Linked DNA regions of Homo sapiens. The protein of the gene in region 1 interacts with the protein of each later gene in a pairwise test. Each region holds a gene or a part of one and is shown on either strand. Other genes may lie near its edges.

Evidence for each region. The genes of interacting proteins can lie anywhere in the genome.
Region 2: the proteins of ABHD5 (region 1) and PLIN3 interact in binary tests that used the Homo sapiens proteins (3 or more experiments, as listed by UniProt).
Region 3: the proteins of ABHD5 (region 1) and GAD2 interact in binary tests that used the Homo sapiens proteins (3 or more experiments, as listed by UniProt).

The regions. Positions count from the first base shown.
Region 1 is NC_000003.12:43,707,911-43,714,937, reverse strand, and holds part of ABHD5 (1-acylglycerol-3-phosphate O-acyltransferase ABHD5), read right to left. Parts: intron 3,230-7,027; coding exon 3,075-3,229; intron 1-3,074. UniProt on the Homo sapiens protein: Coenzyme A-dependent lysophosphatidic acid acyltransferase that catalyzes the transfer of an acyl group on a lysophosphatidic acid.
Region 2 is NC_000019.10:4,850,641-4,857,667, forward strand, and holds part of PLIN3 (perilipin-3), read right to left. Parts: intron 1,662-7,027; coding exon 1,376-1,661; intron 1-1,375. UniProt on the Homo sapiens protein: Structural component of lipid droplets, which is required for the formation and maintenance of lipid storage droplets. Required for the transport of mannose 6-phosphate receptors (MPR) from endosomes to the trans-Golgi network.
Region 3 is NC_000010.11:26,268,774-26,275,800, reverse strand, and holds part of GAD2 (glutamate decarboxylase 2), read right to left. Parts: intron 6,683-7,027; coding exon 6,628-6,682; intron 5,162-6,627; coding exon 5,045-5,161; intron 2,166-5,044; coding exon 2,101-2,165; intron 1-2,100. UniProt on the Homo sapiens protein: Catalyzes the production of GABA.

The DNA of each region.
Region 1 (7,027 bases):
AGGAAATTTAAAAAATGCATGTTTTAAATTATAGTTAACTTATCAACTAAATAATATAGAAAGTTTTAGTGCTTGTCTGTGTAATGAGTGTTATATGCACACATATATATATGTATTCAAATATATATTGTAGGTGGGAAAAAGCACACATTCTGATAGCTGTCCTCCTAAAGTTCCCCAAGGAAATATTAATATAAGAAGTAAAGAGTATTGTATTTTGACTTGCAGATGTACTTTAGGGCCTCAAAAACATGTAAGTTAGAAGGCACTTTTGTAGGTAAATAAATTCTTTAAACGTGGCGAGTAGCTCGTACGTAAAAATTAATGTAATAACTTGTATTTCTTCCATAATTATAACACATTAACTTCTAAATGAAGTAAACTGGTATACATAATTATTTCTGTGTGAAAATAAATTCAGCTTCTTCTTGGGACACTAGCGAGACTCCCTGCTAAGGTTATCCCTGGTGGCGCCCACAGCCCCACTCTAGAAAAAGCCGAGGACACCCAGGCGTGATGGCTCAAGCCTGTAATCCCAGCACTTTGGGAGACCGAGGTGGGCGGATCACAAGGTCAGGAGTTCGAGACCAGCCTGACCAACACGGTGAAACCCTGTCTCTACTAAAAATACAAAAATTAGCCGGGCGTGGTGGCGTGCACCTGTAATCCCAGCAACTCAGGAGGCTGAGGCAGGAGAATCACTTGAACCTGGGAGGTGGAGGTTGTAGTGAGCCAAGATCGCGCCACTGCACTCTAACCTGGGCGACAGAGCGAGACTCCGTCTCAAAAAAAAAAAAAAAGAAAAAAAGAAAGAAAGAAAGAAAAGAAAAGAAAAAGCCCAGGGCAAGGCCCACAAGGGAAAGAGGATGAAGAGCAGAAGCTTTCTTCTAGTCACACTTTTCTATTCTGAGGCCCCAGAGACTGACTGGTCTCCCTTTCTGCTACCACTACCCCATGACTCCAGCAAGGCTTTACTTCTCTACTGGCCCTCTCTTCCCATCTCTGATGAATTATACAGCTCCACCAAGAAATTCTGTCATGCAATTGATTCTACATCACCTCCCCACCCCCAAGTGCAAGCAATAATGGCAGGCTGAGGGCATGGCATTAAAGAGCCTCTCCTAGGTGTCCTCCCTTGCCCATCACTGTCTCCTAATTTCTCTTCATACTTTACTTTTCCCATAATTGTTATTTTTGTACCTGTGTTCTAGTAAAATCTATTTATATTTCAGGACTATAAAGACTAAATGAAGCTCTTAAGTAGTTTACCAGAGAAGGACCAGGCATAGTAAGGAGTGGCTCTACTGGGGAGGGCTGAAAGACTGCAGGTGGGCAAAATGTGCCATCTGTGAGCACTGAAGCAATAAAGTGTGGTCACCAATTCAACCCCCATATCCTCCTCTAAGTCCTGCAGTCCCACTGCTCTCCCAATCCAAACAGAAGGCACTAGGGCAGGAGGGGTCAGGGTTGGGCAGAAGGGAACAGCATTTACAGTCACCTGCATGACAGTTAATCCCACAACCTCCTCCACACCCCCATGCCTCTTCTCTTTTCTCACTAACAGAACCCATCTTTTCTTTTTTCTTTTCTTTTCCTTTTTTTTTTTTTTTTTTTTGAGACAGGGTCTTGCACTGTTGCCCAGGCTGGAGAATAGTGGTGCGATCTTGGCTCGCCACAACCTCCACCTCCCAGGTTTGAGTAATTCTCATGTCTCAGCCTCCTCTCCTGAGTAGCTGGGATTACAGGTGTGTGCCACTATGCCTGGCTAATTTTTTTGTATTTTTAGTAGAGATGGGGTTTTGTCATGTTGGCCGGGCTTGTCTCAAAGCCTGGCCTCAAGTGATCTGCCTACCTCAGCCTCCCAAAGTGCTGGTATTACAGGTGTGAGCCACAGCACCTGGTTAGAACGCATCTTTTCTATAGTATCAATTAGGCAGCAACATGCCCAGGAAAGCAGGCCCTGGAAACAAATCATGATTGGTGCATCACAGAAATTTCTTCTTTGCTGGTGGAAGGACTAGGAGTGGGCCGAGTCATAAGCAGAGGTCAGGTGGAGCCTTCCAGAGAGGACTTTCTTCCCTGACAAAGCATTATGGAGAGAAGGACCATTTTTCGTGCTTTTATTTCTTTTTGCTCAGGGCGCTGATTTGTGAGATGATGCTTAATGCTATGGCAGGCATCAAACCACCGTGAGGAAAAAAGTCAAGAAAATCACAGACACAGACCCAAACCCTAACATCAATGAGCAAGCAACCAGAACAAGTGCTAAAACCTATCTCCAGATTGCTTATTAAGGAAATAATAAAAGTCCTTCTAGTTTAAGCCTCTTGGGTATTCAGTTACTTACAACTAAAAGTACTCCAAATTCATACAAGTTGTACGGGGGAAAGGCAGAAGTTCAGAACATCATTATCTGTGACAATGAGGGAAGGAAATTCCCATGGCTATGGGGCTGAGACAGAACTGCTGAGAGTCAAATAAAAGTCAATCAGGGACTAAACACTGGTGCCTCAAAATATGACCAGAAATATATATCAGGAGTCCCCAAAATGTTGTGGAAAAAATAACTTTATCTTTCCAACACTCTGACATGGATAAGGGAAGAATCTGTGAGTGTGGTGGTACCTGTTATCCCCAGGGTCAATCAAATCAGGTTTTATGGTACCAAATGGTATCATCAATTGGCCAAACGCTCTCCAGTGCTCACCAGCAGGGCAACATGCTACACTTCTCCCAGGCCCTGGACTAGCAGAGGTCCTTATATACTCCCCAAAACACTCTGCTTGCCTGGCTTTTTTTAGAGTGTTGAGGACTGACTAACCTTATCCTCAGCATTCCCTCCTTTTCTGCTTTGCTAATTATTCACAATGTTTACAATATAAAGACTCTCCTTTGAGGAGAAGAACCTAGTTGCATTCGTCTTTGTGCAAGACATGGTACTTATTAGAGGAAGAGGAGAAAAAGTAAGGGTTCAGGGTTTTCTTGTTTGTTTTTAAGATTTTGACTAACAATAGTGAATTCTGCTCTTCTCATAACTTACAAACATTTTGCTTTCCTAGAACATAAGCACTCACCAAAGGGTCCTGCAATCCTTAGGCCAGCTAAAGGGTTAAAGGGAGTCAATGCTGCTCCCAAGGCTCTGATCCAAACTGGAATTGGTCTGTCTTGATCAGCAAGGTCTGGTCGTTCAGGGAAACCCCAAGGCTCCACTAAAATGAGATGATTAACCCTGTTGGGGGAAAGAATATATTTAAGTTCATTTGGTAAAATCACCCTAAGACTATAAAGAGCTAACATGATTTATAAAATAAAGGTAGAATGAACCACCTTCAAAAACCTTCACGTTAAAGATTAGTGCTAAATAGATCGTATCATGCTCTTATTCTGTGTAAACTTTTGAGATTCAGTAGGATCTAAGAGGTGTATGGTAGAAAGAGGGCTTTATTTTTAATATATCTAAATGTGAATAATAAAAGATATATAGAGTACAGAACTGTGTGTTTCTTGAGAAAAAGAAAAAAGGGCATTTGTTATTTAAGTTACACTCTGGCAGATGATGTAGATCACTGGCCACTCAGAAAAATCCAATGGTTCCATGTATGTCTAGGTTGACACTGCAAAAATGGCTAAAGATCAATATCACATTCTTATAAAATAGCCTCAGATACCAACAACAGTTATCTCCTATGAATCAACCATCCTAAAAATGTAAGTGAAGTTAAGGACTTAAAGCGGGTTCAAAAGTACTTTAAATTAACTTTTCATAAACATGAGGATAACGTAACGTGGACTGAAAACACTCCCTAGTTCAGGATTCTAGAATTGTTGAAAAGGAACAAGTCTATCTACCTTATCCATGATATCACGCTATACTGACATTAGATTCTGTTTTCAATTCTTTCCCAATTTTCTTTTTCATTGACCAAGAGATAGAAAATATTCAGTAGAACTTCATATACAATTATTTCATATTGTTAATCATTTTAATTTTTCCATCTTATGAAACTTCTTCCCAATGAAGGAAAACCAGAACTATCAGCAGTACTTCCACATAGCTGCATCATGCTTTAAACATCATAAAGATTCCAAACAAAGTACAAAGATCCTTCTGATACAATACAATGTTCAACTGTAACCAAGCCAGCCAAGAAATGCCAGCCAAAAATCTCCCAAGGATAACTGACAATGACTCTAAAGTCCCTTTCCTAAGTTATAACTGAAACAGAAAGGTAAAGAATCTAAAACATGGGCACAGATGGTATTATTCTTCATATAAAATCTATTCTATTATTGTTGTCAGCATGCATAAGAATAAGTTAGTAACAGGTCCATACTGTGACTGTTTTCTTTCCAGACAGAAAGCTTTGGTGCACAGAGCTCTATGGTACCTTGGAGAATATTGGGTGCAATCATCTTAGATAAGAAGGAAGCTGAGATGTACTACATGACCTGCTCCGGTACATAACATTAGTTAACACAGAACTAGGGCTGAAACCCACATTTCTCTACCCCAGCATACCAGCAGATGCCGACAAGGAATTGGGCAGAAGGCTTTATTTTCTAAAAATAGGCTAATCAACATAAGAGAGACATATTAGTAAAGGTAAAACTTAACCTTTATCAACTCTCAAGGCCAGTCCTAATATTATACTCCAAACTTCATAGCATTAACATATGTAGAATATAACCATAGAGATGTATGAAGATATGTGATAAATGAGTTTCATTTAATTATGAAGTATGCCTTCACAGCCTAAAAATTTCATATGAGAACATTTTCTAATAGTGTATCAGAAAGAGGTTAGAAATGAGTGTTTTGCTTTGTTTTTTAATGGCAAAGACTAACTCTTATATTTTGACCACCTCCTAAATTCCTTTTTATTTTTATTTGTTTTGAGATGGAGTCTCACTCTGTCGCCCAGGCTGGAGTGCAGTGACACAATCTCAGTTCACTTCAACCTCCGCCTCCCAGGTTCAAGTGATTCTCCTGCCTCAGTCTCCTGAGTAGCTGGGATTACAGGCACACACTACCACGCCTGGCTAATTTTTGTATTTTTAGTAGAGATGGGGTTTTACCATGTTGCTCAGGCTGGTCTCGAACTCCTGACCTCGTGATCTGCCCACCTTGGCCTCCCACAGTGCTGGGATTATGGGCCTGAGCCACTGTGCCCGGCCCTAAATTCCTTTAATTATAGCCCACAATAAGATCTGGGGTAGGGGAAGGAAGAGGCCTAACAGGGGTATGAGTAGAACTAATGAGACAGCCACCTAGTTGAAAGCAGCAAAGATTCATGTTAAGAAACAGCCACTATTATTCACTACTGACTTATCTCCCAAAGAGAAAAATGAACTCTTTATTAAAACATACCCTACCCTAAACAATTTAGTTAAATTTTTGTCACAAATTTGTTAATGGATCTTGCTCTAAGCTCTTTCTGACCTGCTAACCCAAAAACAGGTAGGACAAAGGAAAACTTGACAGAAGTCTCATCTGTCTGTAGGTAAGTGACTGTTTTTGCCTTAGTTCTGGCTTGCCTTTTAAATATGATCTTCAAAATTTCATCCCTAGGTGAAAATGCCAGTTTAACAAATTATGCAAAGTATATATACTAAGGCAGATGATCTTTTTGTTTCTTTTTGAAAAGGAGTGAACCGTGCCTACAATTGCTCAATTCTACTGTCCCTACAATTGCTCAATTCTACTGTCCCTACAATTGCTCAATTCTATGTCTTCATAACCTAGCATGAGGCTTAGCACATGGCAGATGCTTGGTAAACATTTGGATTAATATGCTTTTCCACATTTTCTTTTAGTCCTAGTCTATTAAGGATATACAAATTTTATAAAGTATAATCATAGCATAAGCATATCCAGCTGGATTTTTCTGGTCCCCCAGATGACATCAGAACATCACTGCTATTTATTAATCTTATTATTCGGTAACAAAATCCATTTAGATGGTCAAGAACCAGTCTAGTCTTTTTTAAAATAAAATTATACTGTTTGGAACAGAAAAATAAATCATAAGCATTGAATACCGGCCACAAAATTGTATTAATGTATATGTGCATGGGTGTCTGAAACAAGTTTTGTGGGGTGATACAATTGTATTTTTCTATTCCAAACAATATAGAAGGGCTATAGTAAAAAAAGTTTGAACATAATTTTTTAAAACTCTACAACATCTAAACTATAGTTAACTGTAGTTATATATCATCTGCTTCTACTACATGTAAAGACCCCAGAAAATAATTGTTCCTTATTTTTGGTTTTAAGAATTTTAAATAAGATAGACCATGCAAAGCACTCAGGTTGGTGGCCATCGAATAGTAAGTATTCAGTAAATGTAAGCTAGTTACAGTAGCAAGAATAGGAAGACTACAAGAGTAGAATTTATTCCCGGGAACATGGAAAGACAGGTATTTATTCTTCAGAAGAGCTTGATCACAGGTGACTGCAATGTTGCACCAGACCAAGGTCCCAGGCTATCTTCTAACCTCCGCTTTTAGTAAAAATATTATCTCCTCACTTGATAGGAGTTACTGGGTTTTAATGTACATCTAAATTATTATAATTAGCTAAACCCTACTCTTTAATATTCCAGAGAGGGTTCCCTGCTGGGATTGTTAGTTCACATCTAGGGTAAAGAATGGGTCCAACCAGATAGCACATGTGAGTCATCCTATTAGACATCCTTGTCAAGAACCAGAGACTGGTTTAAACCACAAGAAAAACAAAGAACCAGCAGAGCAGGAACAACAGAACAGCTCATCAGTTTTGAAATATACAAAGGCATTCTTCTTAATGTTAGTCATTAGAATTGGCCTTGAGTTTGAAGATGGTGAGCAGAGTACATCCTTAAGGGCAAAGCAGTGGACAACACCTGTACCAACACACTAGGACCTGATTTCACTTGCTCTAAATGCTAACAAGGGTAGATAAGCCTGACCTTCATGAGATTTAAAGACAGCCACCAGTCAGAAATAATGCAACAAGAACAATAATCAGGTCAGGCGTGGTAGCTCA
Region 2 (7,027 bases), on another chromosome or scaffold:
AGCCAGGATGGTCTCGATCTCCTGAACCTGTGATCCGCCCGGCCTTGGCCTCCCAAAGTGCTGGGATTACAGGCGTGACCCACCGTGCCCGGCCTAATTTTTGTATTTTTAGTAGAGACCGGGTTTCACCATGTTGGCCAGGCTTGTCTCAAACTCTTGACTTCAGGTGATCTGCCCACCTCGGCCCACCAAAGTGCTGGGATTACAGGCTGAGCCACCGCGCCCTGCCTATATCCTAAGCTACTTATTTGCAAAAATCCCAATCCCCGCACTTTGGGGGGCTAAAGCAGTAGGATCACTCCAGCCAAGGAGTTCTGGATCAGCTGGGATGACAGAGGGAGACCCCGTCTTTACCAAAAATTAAATAAAGAAAAATTAGTTGGGCGTGATGGTGTGTGCTTGTAGTCCCAGCTACTCGGAGGCTGAGATGGGAGGCTCGCCTCAACCCAGGAGTTGGAGGCTGCATTGAGCTATGATCGCACCACTGCACTTCAGCCTGGGCAAGAGAGTGAGACTCTATCTCTAAAACAAATAAATAAAAAAGGGCCGGGCATGGTGGCTCACACCTGTAATCCCAGTACTTGGGGAGGCCGAGGTGGGCAGATCACAAGGTCAGGAGTTCGAGACCAGCCTGGCCAACATAGTGAAACCCCGTTTCTACTAAAAATACAAAAAATTAGCTGTGTGGTGGCAGGTGCCTGTAATCCCAGCTACTCAGGAGGATGAGGCAGGAGACTCGCTTGAACCCAGGAGGCAGAGGTTGCAGTGAGCTGAGATCACGCCATTGCACTCCAGCCTAGGTGACAGGGCGAGACTCTGTCTCTAAATAAATAAATAAATTAATTAAAGAAGAATATCAAATAAACAGTGCAGGGAGTGCGAATATGTGACCGAGATGACTGGAGTGGGATGTCTGGCCTGGCGGGAACACCAGCATTGTTGTCACAGTTCAGTGAGATCTCAAGTTTAGTCACGTATTTATGCAGGAGCGGAGTGGCGAAGGGGGAAGAGGAGGAGGGCGGGGAGAGGACAGGGGAGGTTGTGCAGGACCTTGTGGGCTGTGACGAGGACTTGGGCTTTGACCCCAGGGGAGGTGGGGTCCATGGAGGGCTGTGGGCAGAGGGACGGGTTCTGACTCAGGTGGTCACAGGCGCCCTCTGGTGGCTGCTGTGGGGAGGAGACTGTGGTGGATGAGGGCGGGAGCTGGTGAGCAGGACAGAGGGGACTGCGTTAGTGATGAGATTCCAAGATGCCCGGGAGAAGTGGCAGGGACGAGGCGGCAGTGAGTGTCGGCACAGACCCCAGGAGGCCGACAGCGGCTTCCGGTCAGGGGGCCTGGGGAGGGGTCCCAGAGCAGCCCGCTGGCCACACTTACCCAGTTCGGCATCCGTAAGGGGCAGGTGGTTGTCCGCCCACTCCTCCGACTTCCCCAGCACCGTGTCGACCCCACTCAACACCATCTGGCCCAAGCGGGAGCCCATGACCGATTGGACGCCGCCGGTCACTACGGACTTTGTCTTGTCCACGCCGCTCTGCACAGCACCGCGGGTCGCGTCCACCGCCTCCGACAATTGGGTGGCCACCGTGTCCTTGGCGCTAGACACCATCTCTTGGGCCCCCGACACCTTAGACGACACAAGCTCCTTGGTGTCCGCCAGGACCTAGGAGATGCAACAGCATCAGCATCTCTGCCTTCCCTCCATATCTGGGCACCCCTCCCCTGCACCCCAACTTCCAGGGAGACCGAGGCGGGGAGCGCCATCCCCCGGGTGACCCCAGCATCTCCGTCTTCCCTCTGTATGTGGGCACCCCTCCCCTGCACCCCAACTTCCAGGGAGACTGAGGCAGGGAGCGCCATCCCCCAGGTGACCCTGAGTCTGGAGTTGTGGGCATGACCTCATACTCTGCAGCCAGACTACCTAGGCTCCGTTCCTAGCTAGCTACTTCTCAGCTGTGTGGCTTCAGGAAAGTCACTCTACCTCCCTGTACCTCATTTCTTTCTTTCTTTTTTTTTTTTGGAGACAGGGTCTTGCTCTCTTGCCCAGGCTGGAGTGCAGTGACACCATCTCAGATCACTGCAACCTCTGTCTCCCGGGTTCAAGCAGTTCTCCTGCCTCAGCCTCCGAAGCAGCTGGGATTACAGGTGCCCGCCACCATGCCTGGCTAATTGTTTTTTGTTGTTGCTGTTGTTGAGATGGAGTTTCACTCTCGTTGCCCAGGCTGGAGTGCAATTGTGTGATCTCGGCTCACTGTAACCTCCGCCTCCTGGGTTCAAGCGATTCTCCTGCCTCAGCCTCCCGAGTAGCTGGGATTACAGGCATGCGCCACCACGCCAGGCTAATTTTGTATTTTTAGTAGAGATGGGGTTTCACCATGTTGGTCAGGCTGGTCTCAAACTCCTGACCTAGTGATCCGCCCACCTCAGCCTCCCAAAGTGCTAGGATTACAGGCATGAGCCACTGCACTCTGCCTGTTTTTTGTTTTTTTTTTTCAATTTAATTTTTTTTCTTTTGAGATGGAGTCTCCCTCTGTCACCCAGGTGGAGTGCGGTGGCACAATCTCGGCTCACTACAAACTCCACCTCCTGGGCTCAAGTGAGCCTCCCACCTCAGCTTCCCCAGCGAGTAGCTGTGACCACAGGCACGTACCACCACTCGTGGCTATTTTTTATCTTTTATTTTTATTTATTTATTAATTTTTTTGAGGCGGAGTTTCACTCTTGTTGCCCAGGCTAGAGTGCAATGGTGCAATCTCGATTCACTGCAACCTCTGCCACGTGGGTTCAGGTGATTCTCCTGCCTCAGCCTCCCAAGTAGCTGGGATTACAAGCACATGCCACCATGCCGAGCCGATTTTTGTATTTTTAGTAGAGACGGGTTTCACCATGTTGGCCAGGCTGGTCTTGAACTCCTGACATCAGGGGATCCACTTGCCTGGGCCTCCCAAAGTGCTGGGATTACAAGCATGAGCCACTGCGCCCAGCCTTATTTTTTATTTTTTGTAGAGACAAAAAATACAAAAAATTAGCCGGGTGCAGTGGTGCATGTCTGTAATCCTTACTACTCAAGAGGCTGAGGCGGGAGAATCCCTTGAACCCGGGAGGTGGAGTTTGCAGTGAGCCGAGACTGCACCACTGCACTCCACCCTGGGTGACAGAGAGAGACTCTGTCTCCAAAAAAAAACAAAAACAAACAAACAAAAAAAAGCTTTGCATGGAATCCTTTGACTACGCCCCACCCAGCACATGGTGAGCGCTCATCTGTCAATACCTGCTGTTCTCGAATCTAAGTCTTTTTTTTTTTTTTCTTTTGAGACAGGGTCTCACTGTGTCACTCAGGCTGGAGTGCAGTGGTGCAATCATAGCTTACTCAAGCCTTGACCTCTTCGGCTCCAGCGATCCTCCCACCTCAGCCTCCCAAGTAGCTGAGACTACAGGTACGCACCACCACACCCGGCTTATTTTTTTATTTTTTGTAGAGACAAGGACTCTCCATGTTGCCCAGGCTGGTTTCGAACTCCTGGCCTCAAGCAGTCCTCCTGCTTTGGCCTCCCAAAGTGCTGGGATGACCGACATGAGCCACTGTGTCCAGCTGAAGCTAAGTCTTTAGACAGATCTCTATGCAGAGGGCTCTCCGCAAAGTTGAAAACCACACCTGCCCCATTCCTACCCAAGTTGGTGCTTCCCTGAAGACTCAGTCCTCTTGTACTCATGAGAGTTCATCTTTTTGTGGGGGAAGAGGGTGTGAGAGTCAAGTTTTTTGTTTTTGTTTTTGTTTTTTTTTACAGAGTTTTTGCTCTTGTCACCCAGGCTGGAGTGCAGTGGCACTATCTCGGCTCACCGCAACCTCCACCTCCCAGGTTCAAGCGGTTCTCCTGCCTCAGCCTCCCCAGCAGCTGGGACTACAGGCGTGCACTGCCACGGCCGGCTAATTTTTTGTATTTTTAGTAGAGACGGGGTTTCACTGTGTGAGCCAGCATGAGCCAACGCCCCCGATGAGAGTCAGGTTCTAACAGCCCCACTACTCAGTGAACACGCACGTTCTCACACTGGCCCGGATTAAAATCTAGCTCTGACAACACCACCGTCCCCCAGAACCTGGGGAAAGTTACCTCTTCACAAAGGGGGAAAAAACTCATAGGGCCCAGAATTGAGAGAGCATTGCACCTCTCAAAAAGTCAAGAGCTCACAGCAGGCCAGGCACGGTGGCTCACACCTGTCATCCCGGCACTTTGGGAGGCTGAGGTGGGAGGATCGCTTGGGCCCAGAAGTGTGAGAACAGCCTGGGCAACATAGTAAGACCTCACCTCTACAAAAAATACAAAAATTGGCCGGGCACGGTGACTCACGCCTATAATCCCAGCACTTTGGGAGGCCAAGGCAGCTGGATCACCTGAGGTCAGGAGTTCGAGACCAGCCTGGCCAACATGGTGAAACCCCATCTCTACTAAAAATACAAAAATTTGCTGGGCGTAGTGATGGGCGCCTATAATCCCAGCTACTTGGGAGGCTGAGGCAGGAGGATCACTTGAACCCAGGAGGCAGAGGTTGCAGTGGGCTGAGATCACGCCACTGCATTCCAGCCTGGGCAACAGAACGAGACTCCATCTGAAAAAAAAAAAAAAAAAAAAAAAAAGCTCCCAGCTGCTGCTCTGTTCAGTGACCTTGAAGAATTCACCCTGAGCTTATCCCTTCTATAAACAGAAAGACTGTTGGCCTCCTACGCTATCAGTGGGAGAGAAAGGGAAGCAAGGGCTTGGCCCTGAGACGGGGGCTCCTGGTTGACGTTTCCCATCTTCCTGTAAGCTCAGCAGTTTCCATCCCCCCTCAGCCAAGCCCACTATTGGCCTTTGCTGATAAGGTGTAGGCATGGCTGGGCATAGTGGCTCACAACTATAATCCCAGCACTTTGGGAAGCCAAGGCAGGCAGGAGGATTGCTTGAGCCCAGGAGTTTGTTTTTTGTTTTGTTTCTGAGATGGAGTCTCGCTCTGTTGTTCTGATCTCGTGATCCGCCCGCCTCGGCCTCCCAAAGTGCTGGGATTACAGGCGTGAGCCACCGTGCCTGGCTAGCCTGGGAGTTTGAGACCAGCCTGGGCAATATAGCAAGACCCCATTCCTACAAAAAATTAAAAAATTAGTCAGGTGTGGTGGTGCACACCTGTAGTCCCAGCTTCTCAGGAGGCTGAGAGCTGGGAGGATTGCCTAAGTCTAGGAGGTCAAGGCTGTAGTGAGCCAAGATCACGCCACTGCACTCTAGCTTGGGCTACAGAGCAAGACCTTGTCTCAAAAAAAAAAAAAAAATGCAAGTTGACAACCGCTCTGCTGTTTCCCAGCTAAGGCCATTTCTGCATAAATGGGAGGTGAGGAAGTCTAACCATGATGGGACAGCACAGCTCCCCGGCATACAGTAGGCACTCAATAGCAAGTGGATGAATAAGCTGCCTGTCCCTGCAGGTGGTCTCAGGGAAAGTCCAAGGATGCTGGGATGCGGCTGGCTTGTCCTGCCTCCAACCCAGGGATCACCTATTTCTGATGCTACAGACCCAGACACAAGCAGGTGGTACCCGAGGGTGGCCCTTCTGTAACCACTGGGCTGAAGCGGACATGGAGCACCTGAATACTTAATAAGCATCTATCTGCAGGGCGCGGTGGCTCACACCTGTAATCCCAGCACTTTGGGAGGCCGAGGCAGGCAGATCACCTGAGGTTGGGAGTTCGAGACCAGCCTGACCAACATGGAGAAACCCCATCTCTACTAAAAAGATAAAATTACCCAGGCATGGTGGTGCATGCCTGTAATCCCAGCTACTCGGGAGGCTGAGGCAGGAGAATCGCTTGAGCCCGAGAGGCGGAGGTTGCAGTGAGCCGAGATCGCACCATTGCACTCCAGCCTGGGCAACAAGAGCAACACTCTGTCTCAAAAAACTAAAAAAATAAGCATCTACCCTGTGCCAGGCTGCCTGCTGGGCACTGGACACAGCCACAAAGCAGGCAGCCTGTGCCCTGGTCCCAGCTGGGGAGACAAACAATAACCGATTAAGCCTCACACTTATCTGAAGGAGGGTGTTTTTTTTTTTTTTTTTGAGACAGAGCCTTGCTCTGTTGCCCAGGCTGGAGCGTGGTGGCACGATCTCGGCTCACTGCAACCTCTTGCCTCCCAGGTTCAAGTGATACTCGTGCCTCAGCCTCCCGAGTAGCTGAGATTATAGGAACTCACCATCACGCCTGGCTGATTTTTGAATTTTTAGTAGACACAGGGTTTCACCATGTTGGCCAGGCTGGTCTCGTACTCCTGATCTCAAGTGATCTGCACGCTTCGGCCTCCCAAAGTGCTGGGAGTAAGGCGTGAGCCACCACGCCTGGTCTGTGCCTCATTTTTTCATCCCAGGCTGTTATAGGTTGAATTATGGCCCCCTCAACCCCAAATTCTTATGTTGAAGTCCTGATCCCCAGGGGTAAGAATGTGGCTGTATTTAGAGACAGGGTCTTTAAAAAGCGGTGATTAAGGGAAACTGAGGTAGGGCACAGTGGCACACTCCTATAATTCTAGCACTTTGTGGGGCTGAGGCAGGAGGATTGCTTGAGCCCAAGAGTTGGAGACCGGCCTGGGCAATATGGCGAGACTCCGTCTTGACAAAAAGTACAAAAATTAGCCAGGCGTGGTGGATGCACCTAGTCCCAGCTACTCAGGAGGCTGAGGCAGGAGGATCTGTTGAGCCCAGGAGTCTGAGAACAGCCTGGGCAACATGGTGAAAACTCGTCTCTACAAAAAATTAAAAATAGCCAGGCATGGTGGTGCATGCCTGTGGTCCCAGCTACTTGGGAAGCTGAGATGGGAGGATCACTTGAGCCCAGGAGTTCAAGGCTGCAGTTGAGCCATGATCACACTACTGCACCCCACCCTGGGTGACAGAGTGAGAACCTGTCTCAAAAAAAAAATTTTTTTTTTTAATGTTAAGAGCCAACATTTGCTACAAGCCATGTGCTGTTCTGGGCCTTCAGGTGTTAACCCCAGGTCAGCATTGCCA
Region 3 (7,027 bases), on another chromosome or scaffold:
TTGACTACGGATTTCTTCTACTTTTAGGGTGAGTTCTAAACTTTGGTTTGCGGAGCTTGGAAAAATGTCATTCCCTAAGTGAGACACATTTCTTTCCTAAACTTGTGGCCATACACATTATGTGGTTTCCACTGGTCTTCCAACTGTATTCACTTAGAAAGTATGCCTTTTGCTAATAAGTCAGTGAGAGAGGGGTATCCTCAGTTAAATGGGTGGCTAAAGGGGATTCTGCTCAGAGTGGAACACCAGCAGCCCCCTCATTTTTAGGACTTCATATATGGTTATTCCATTTGAAAAGTTTAGTTACAGTACAGTTTCAAGAATTGCGGCAATAAGAGGAAACTCTGTGTTCCCTGATGAACGTTCTAAGCTTTGCTCTCAAATAATAGTCTTTGGTACAGAATCGTGTGGGTGTTTATTTTTCTAAGGCTCAGGGTAGGTAATTTAGTGAGTTTTTAAGTGGAGGATGTGCCAGGACTTTCAGCACTTACAGTTGCAAGTGGCATCAAAGGTAAAGTAACAGACTTTTTGTGCCAGTCAGAAACTCACAGAAGAGAAAGTACTGTACATAGGCCACCTCTCTTGAAAGCACATGAATTTAATTATTGTTCTGATCATGTGAGCAGGCACCTTCCAAGTTGTTCTCTCTCTCTCTTTTATTGTCTCTCCCTGTTTACTTCATTGCCTCTTCCTTAAGCTTCTGCTTTCTTGCAGATCTTCAAGATGGAAAGGGATTAGGCCTGAGAGAAGCCCCAAGGGTCCAAGAGCAGAGGCCTGGCACTGGCTGACCCTGGGAGGGAGACACACCTGCCCTCATCCACTGGCATCTAAATGGGGCCCTGCAATCAGAGCTTGGGTGGCTCCAGGTGCCTTAACACCGCTGTGCTCAGGCCAGGCTCTGACCCCAGCCATCAGACTCAGGGACAGTGACCCTTCTGACATGGGCCTTAGCTGGTGTATCCCAACTCTTTTTTGCCTTCTTTCCATTAATTTGGTGGGATGCTCTTGACTCCAGCCCAGTAACCATACCCCTCTCTTTCCACACTCACGGGTTCTCTGTGTATTTTGGGCCTGGGTGTCAGATCGCACCCTCTGCACAGCCACTCTGGCCTGGGCCTCCCACATGCCCAGGGCTCACAAGTGCCTCTGTGCTCCATCAGCGTCTCTCCTTGTCCTGGAACAGAAACTGTGCCAAGATATCTAGTGGCAGAGCCAGTGTGACGCTTTTGCTGGGCAGCATCTGGCGACTTGGCAGGGGATGGTGGGCATTTGGCAGCCTCTGATGAATTCAGGCTTTCTTGGTCACTTGGAGTGCCAGAGCTCACCACTGTGTCTGACCTGCCATGTTGTGATGAGAGAACTGGGCTCCCCTTGCATGTGGTTCAGAACCAGAGCCTGTATTTTGCATTCTGTTGTTCTCTTTTCTTTGGACCTGAATGTGCTTTATGCCAATCAGATATCACTGCCTTTGTGTTTTTCAGCTTTTCTCAACAGTCTTCTGCGTAGGCTCTAAATAAAAGGTGCTTTGCAGCATCAGTCGGAGCTGTGTCAGAGAAAGGTTATTACGGGAATGAAACATGAGATGAGGCTATTGCTAGTATGTTTCACTTTAAGTGAACTGGCCATCTTAGACCCCAAACCCAAACTTTCAACATTGATAAGTTACAAGGTGCTTATTTGCTTTGAAAAATTATTATTTTTTTTAAGCAGTGGATATTATCCTTTTATGAAACATGAAAGCTATAAATCTTCTCCCTAGTAAAACGTGGGCTGCCTGTAGGTTTTAAACAATTTTTGTGGTTGGTTCAGAGATCCCAGGAATAGACCCTAGACAGGAATCTCTATGTCTGAAAGAGATTCTACCTGGGTCGCTTGATGTGTATTCTGATTTTTCTGTTGTTTACACATAATATTTACATATTTGATTTTTCTGTTGTTTACCCACATTCATGAGTGTAATACCACATAAGGCAAGGAACACAAGCACTGAATAGAGTGAGTTCACTCAGTATTCCAAAAGTTCCTGGAAATTGACTGTAATTTGTGTTTCACAGTTAGCTTTTAACACTTTATGTTGTTAATAAGAAAAATGCAACATACCTCTCCACGCCACTCAGTTTCCACTTGTGTTTTCGGGACATCAGTAATCCCCCACCCCAAGCTGCCTGAAAAAAAATCATATGAGGAAAATGGTAGCAGTTTGTCATTGCCTAGATTTCTATAGTCTGGTGTCTTTCTAGGTGAAAATGATCTTGACCCCAGGCCACTTAGGAAGTTGACCACCTCCTTCTGGCACTAACCTTCAGAGTTTACACCGAAGGGCCCTTCTAAGGTCTCAGATTCCATCCCACATTTATATGGGTGTAAGGAGCCACCTTGGAGGCATAGCTCCTGGTCCGTAGAAGAGAGAGAAAGACCCTCTCCCAAACCTATCACCAGCACCATTAGTCCTCATGAAGTCATGTTCTCAGAATACGAAACCCTGTGGTCCCCACAGTGTAAGGCAGAGAAGATGGGCAGGAGGGCCATTAAACAGCTTCCAAGTTGCAGGGAAAACTCTTTTGACAAGTCTAAATGATTCCAGAAATAAGAAGTGGCTTCATAACTCTATTTCACTGATGTGTGATTTTGGATAATTTCTGTGTCCAAAATTCACAAGCAGGGAAGATTCATACCAGTTAATTAGCTGAGCAGTTAGAACACGTCTTAACAATTTGTACTTGATCAAGGTTGAAGATTTGAATTGGTGTAGTAATCTCCTTTAAAAATAGAATGCCAAGATGGAGATTCATTTGGAAATATTAACTTTCTTTCCTCTGTGTGTACAAATAATTCTAGGATAATTTTAAATGGATTATAAAATTCTTTTATGATATAATCACTTCCCCCCACCTTTTGTTGTAAGTTCAGCCCTCTTTTTGTTTTGTTTTGTTTCTGAGACAGAGTTTTGCTCTTGTTGCCCAGGCTGGAGTGCAATGGTGAGATCTTGGCTCACTGCAACCTCTGCCTCCTGGGTTCAAGCAATTCTCCTGCCTCAGCCTCCCAAGTAGCTGGGATTACAGGCACCCACCACCATGCCTGGCTAATTTTTGTATTTTTAGTAGAGACGAGGTTTCACCATGCTGGCCAGGCTGGTCTCGAACTTCTGACTTCAGGTAATCCACCTGCCTCAGCCTCCCAAAGTGCTGGGATTACAGGCGTGAGACACTGCACCTGGCCCAGTTCTTTTGCACTTTGAAAAATTATGATTTTCCAAACGTGTACTATTTTAAGATTCTTTCTACTTTATAGAATGTATGAATGTTAAAGCTAATAAGAGTAAGTGGTAAACTTGGTATGTTTCAAAGAAAAGCTAATAAAACTGGTTAAAAGATTCCCTAGTTCTAATTTAAGTAGGAGGCCCAGAGGAACAACCCATAGCTTCTGCTGGCTCAGGACACACAGACATTCTCATTTTTGAAGTTGCCGGGTAATCCTCTTCCTGAATCAGCCAGCAAGGTCTACCAGGATTTCCAGTCCTGAGGCCCAGGTCACTAATGATATCGGATAGTTCAGTCTTTTCTCAGTGTCTTCATGTGTAAAATGAAAGGGGCTCTGGTAGCCTAATGAACGACTCACACTGTGAATCAGGGAGGATAAAGAACATTGGTGATTGCTCTGCAGGAATACTCTGGAATAATGGAAATGCACCCAGCTAAGCCTGTGGAAATTTTCTGCCCCTAAAGAAAAGAACATTAATGAGGCCAGGTGTGGTGGCTCCTGCCTGTAATCCCAGCATTTTGGGAGGCCAAGGCAGGTGGATCACCTGAGGTCAGGAGTTCGAGAGCAGCCTGGCCAATATGGAGAAATCCCATCTCTACTAAAATTGCAAAAATTAGCTGGGCATGGGTGCGCACGTCTGTAATCCCAGCTACTCAGGAAGCTGAGGCAGGAGAATTGCTTGAACCCTGGAGGCGGAGGTTGCGGTGAGCTAAGATCACGCCACTGCACTCCTGCCTGGGCGACAGAGCAAGACTCTGTCTCAAAAAGAAAAAAAAAAGAGCATTAATTTGGTCTGAATAATTATTATAAAGCCAAAATGATCTAAGCCAGGGCTAGATCATTGTTATAGCCCTGGCTTAGACCCAGTGCTGGCCCATGACAACATAAGGATCTTGCACTCGAATGAACATCAACTTATGCGTTCCTTCACTGAGAAAGTCTTGCAATGAAAAAATTATCAGCTGAGCCAAGCATTGCGCTTAGTTTGTGATGGTTTGTGATTAGCGATGGTTTGTGACTGATGATGGTTTGGCACAAACTCTTTATCTCATATGGATCATTAACAGTTTGCAGGTGGTAGCTAATCGTCAAACCACACTTTGAGTAATACTAATCTAAACTTAAATCCCTTCGGTCCTTCTAAAACTTAACACATTTTTTTTCATTGGAAAATGTTCTGGAGGGAACACCTTCATTATTTTTTAGTGTGACAAGGCCTGAAGTCAAAACGTTTCAAATATAATCTATCTTCTTAGCTGACCAAGCTACGAAATTGGAACTTTGGTGGTCCTTATTTCCCAGGAAGTTGTCAAGCCTATTTTCCTCTCTAAATACAGGAATATCTAACTTGAGCTTCAGTTTTTTGCTTTTGTTTGTTTTTAATTCTCTGGGTTTCCTACATAAATGCAACTCCTCTTTACTCTTCTGACCATTCTGGTAAGTGAGGAACAGCAGGACTGTGTGCGTAGGTTGTATTCCTCCATGGATGCAATGGCTCGATGAATTGAGAACAAAGTGGTCAGCTTGGGTACTGATCATAGAAATACAAATATTACCATGTTGGGGACATTAAGGTATAATCAGCCTTGGGATGCTTCTGGTGCACGGTGTGTACTGTGTGAGTTGTGTGCTAATTTGCTTCATCCAGCTTTAAAAGCTTTAATATCACCACTCTGAAAATAAGCTGACCAAGTTAAAAAAAGAGAAAACAAATTTCCTTTGTGTGTCCCACATGAAAAACGTGCAAGGACGTTTTAGTGGCCAGTCCCTAAGGGATACTTACATCCACATGCATCCAGATCTTATACTTTTTGCAAATGTCAGCGACAGCTAAGAGGGGGTCAAATGCTCCGTACACGGTGGTTCCAGCTGTGGCACTCACGAGGAAAGGAACAAACCCCTGTGCGAACGAGAAAGCCCCAAATCATGGAAAACAGAGTCAAGGGTTCTTTTAAAAAGCTGATTCAAAGCAATGGAAATTCTCTCCCTAACAGACACGTCTGAATTTGAGGAAGCAGCAGCAGAGTTACTGACACCCCGGGGTCTGGGACAAATTGATGTTCACTCTCTGGAATCTGAGTTCTCTAGGCTATGCTGTTGGACCTGACTGTGTCTTAAAAGAACAGACATTCTGATTCTCAGAAGAGGCTGTAGTGAACCCAGAGGCTGTCAGGGACGTCCCCGAGACATGTATATATTCCCGGTAGACTTTCTGGCCCTTTTAACCCCCTTTGCTCACTTTCAAGTGTTCCTTATTCACAACGAGGCCTCTGAACTTCATAAATCCCCTAGAGTGAGTAGGCAGGAGAATGAAGAGAAGTAGCTCTGACCAGCCCATTATTCCTATTTGGAAAATGCCCAGATAATTTATTTCACGTTTCAGCACGGAGCGGCTAAAATAATACGCCATGACTTTTATCCGTCTAACTAGTCCTCAGTCTCTCTGGCCATGGCTAAATGAAAACTGATTGAAGTAACGGGCTGGAAGAAGGCAGGAGAATGCCACAAACAGGATCGCCATAGTCCCTCATTCCATAAGGACTCTGTCCTGTCTATAGAACGTGATGTTATGGTGTCAGTCTTTAGGTGGCAGCAAAGGTTTAATCTTCTAGTTGATGTTACTAGAAGTAGTTCTAGTACTTGCACAAGGAGGGAAACCTTCTCCTGCTGCCTGCCACTTAGTAAAACAAAACCAAACGAAAAAGGGCATATGAACGTAAATCATTATTTCTGAGTTCCTAATGATAAAATGCATGTGTATGTTATTAAATCAGAAACTGTAGGTTATATCTACCAAATGGTAAACAAAGAATTCTAGAAACAAATTCTCTGATTTGTGAGCCATCCCAGGTTGTAAATGACTTTCTAGAGCTTTGGGAATCTTGGGCAGGCATTCAGAACTTGTTACTTCTGAAAAGAGTTCTAAATTGCTTCCTGCAAAATAAGACGTCTGGAGAGCCAATGCTAACAGCATGCACCTACACGGGAAAAACTGGCCCCTTTTGAAGAACTGCACCAGGGTCTCTCACATACTGCATTAGCATTCTGCTATTTCCCCGCCTCTGAAAATATTCTTTCAAATGTGTGGGTGTTTCATGCCAACCCTCAGTACCTAGGAAGACAAATGCTTTGGAAACGCTCACTGTATCTCTGTATATAATATTTATTCAGCAATTTAAACTTTTCTAAAGCAGAGCCTATAACCCAGAGAAATAAATAGTGACTGGATGCAGAATTCTATGTTCTCATTAAACCTGGGAGATTGAGGCTTGGATCCTCTTTTTAAAATAAAACCAAAACACATTTTGTTCTCCGGTGGATGGAAATAGAAATATGGGCTGGATAAAGCTCCCGGCAGAAACTTACTTTCTGTTTGGCTTCAAGAATCCTTCTTTCAAGATCAGATGGAATCATTTTCCCTCTGGAAGGAAAAAGAAATATAGATTTGCTTTGAATAATTTGCTTCATCGTCTTTACAACGTAAGTGGCCGCAGGAGGGTAAAGTCCAACCCCAAACTGTTGATAACAATACTCGGAGAAAACAACTCCTTGACTGCTTCCAGGAAGGATGCATTTACTTGCCTGGATGAGGCATGACTATCATTTCTGGCACGTTTTGCAGACTTGTGACCGTATTGTGTTGTTCCCTATAGAACGATTACCATGACCCTCTGCTGTGCACAGAAGCTTCTTATTAAGTCATCCTCTTAATTCAGTTAAAACAAGCCTGATTTGGAGCAAAATGTTTGGCAATGAAAGGAGAGTT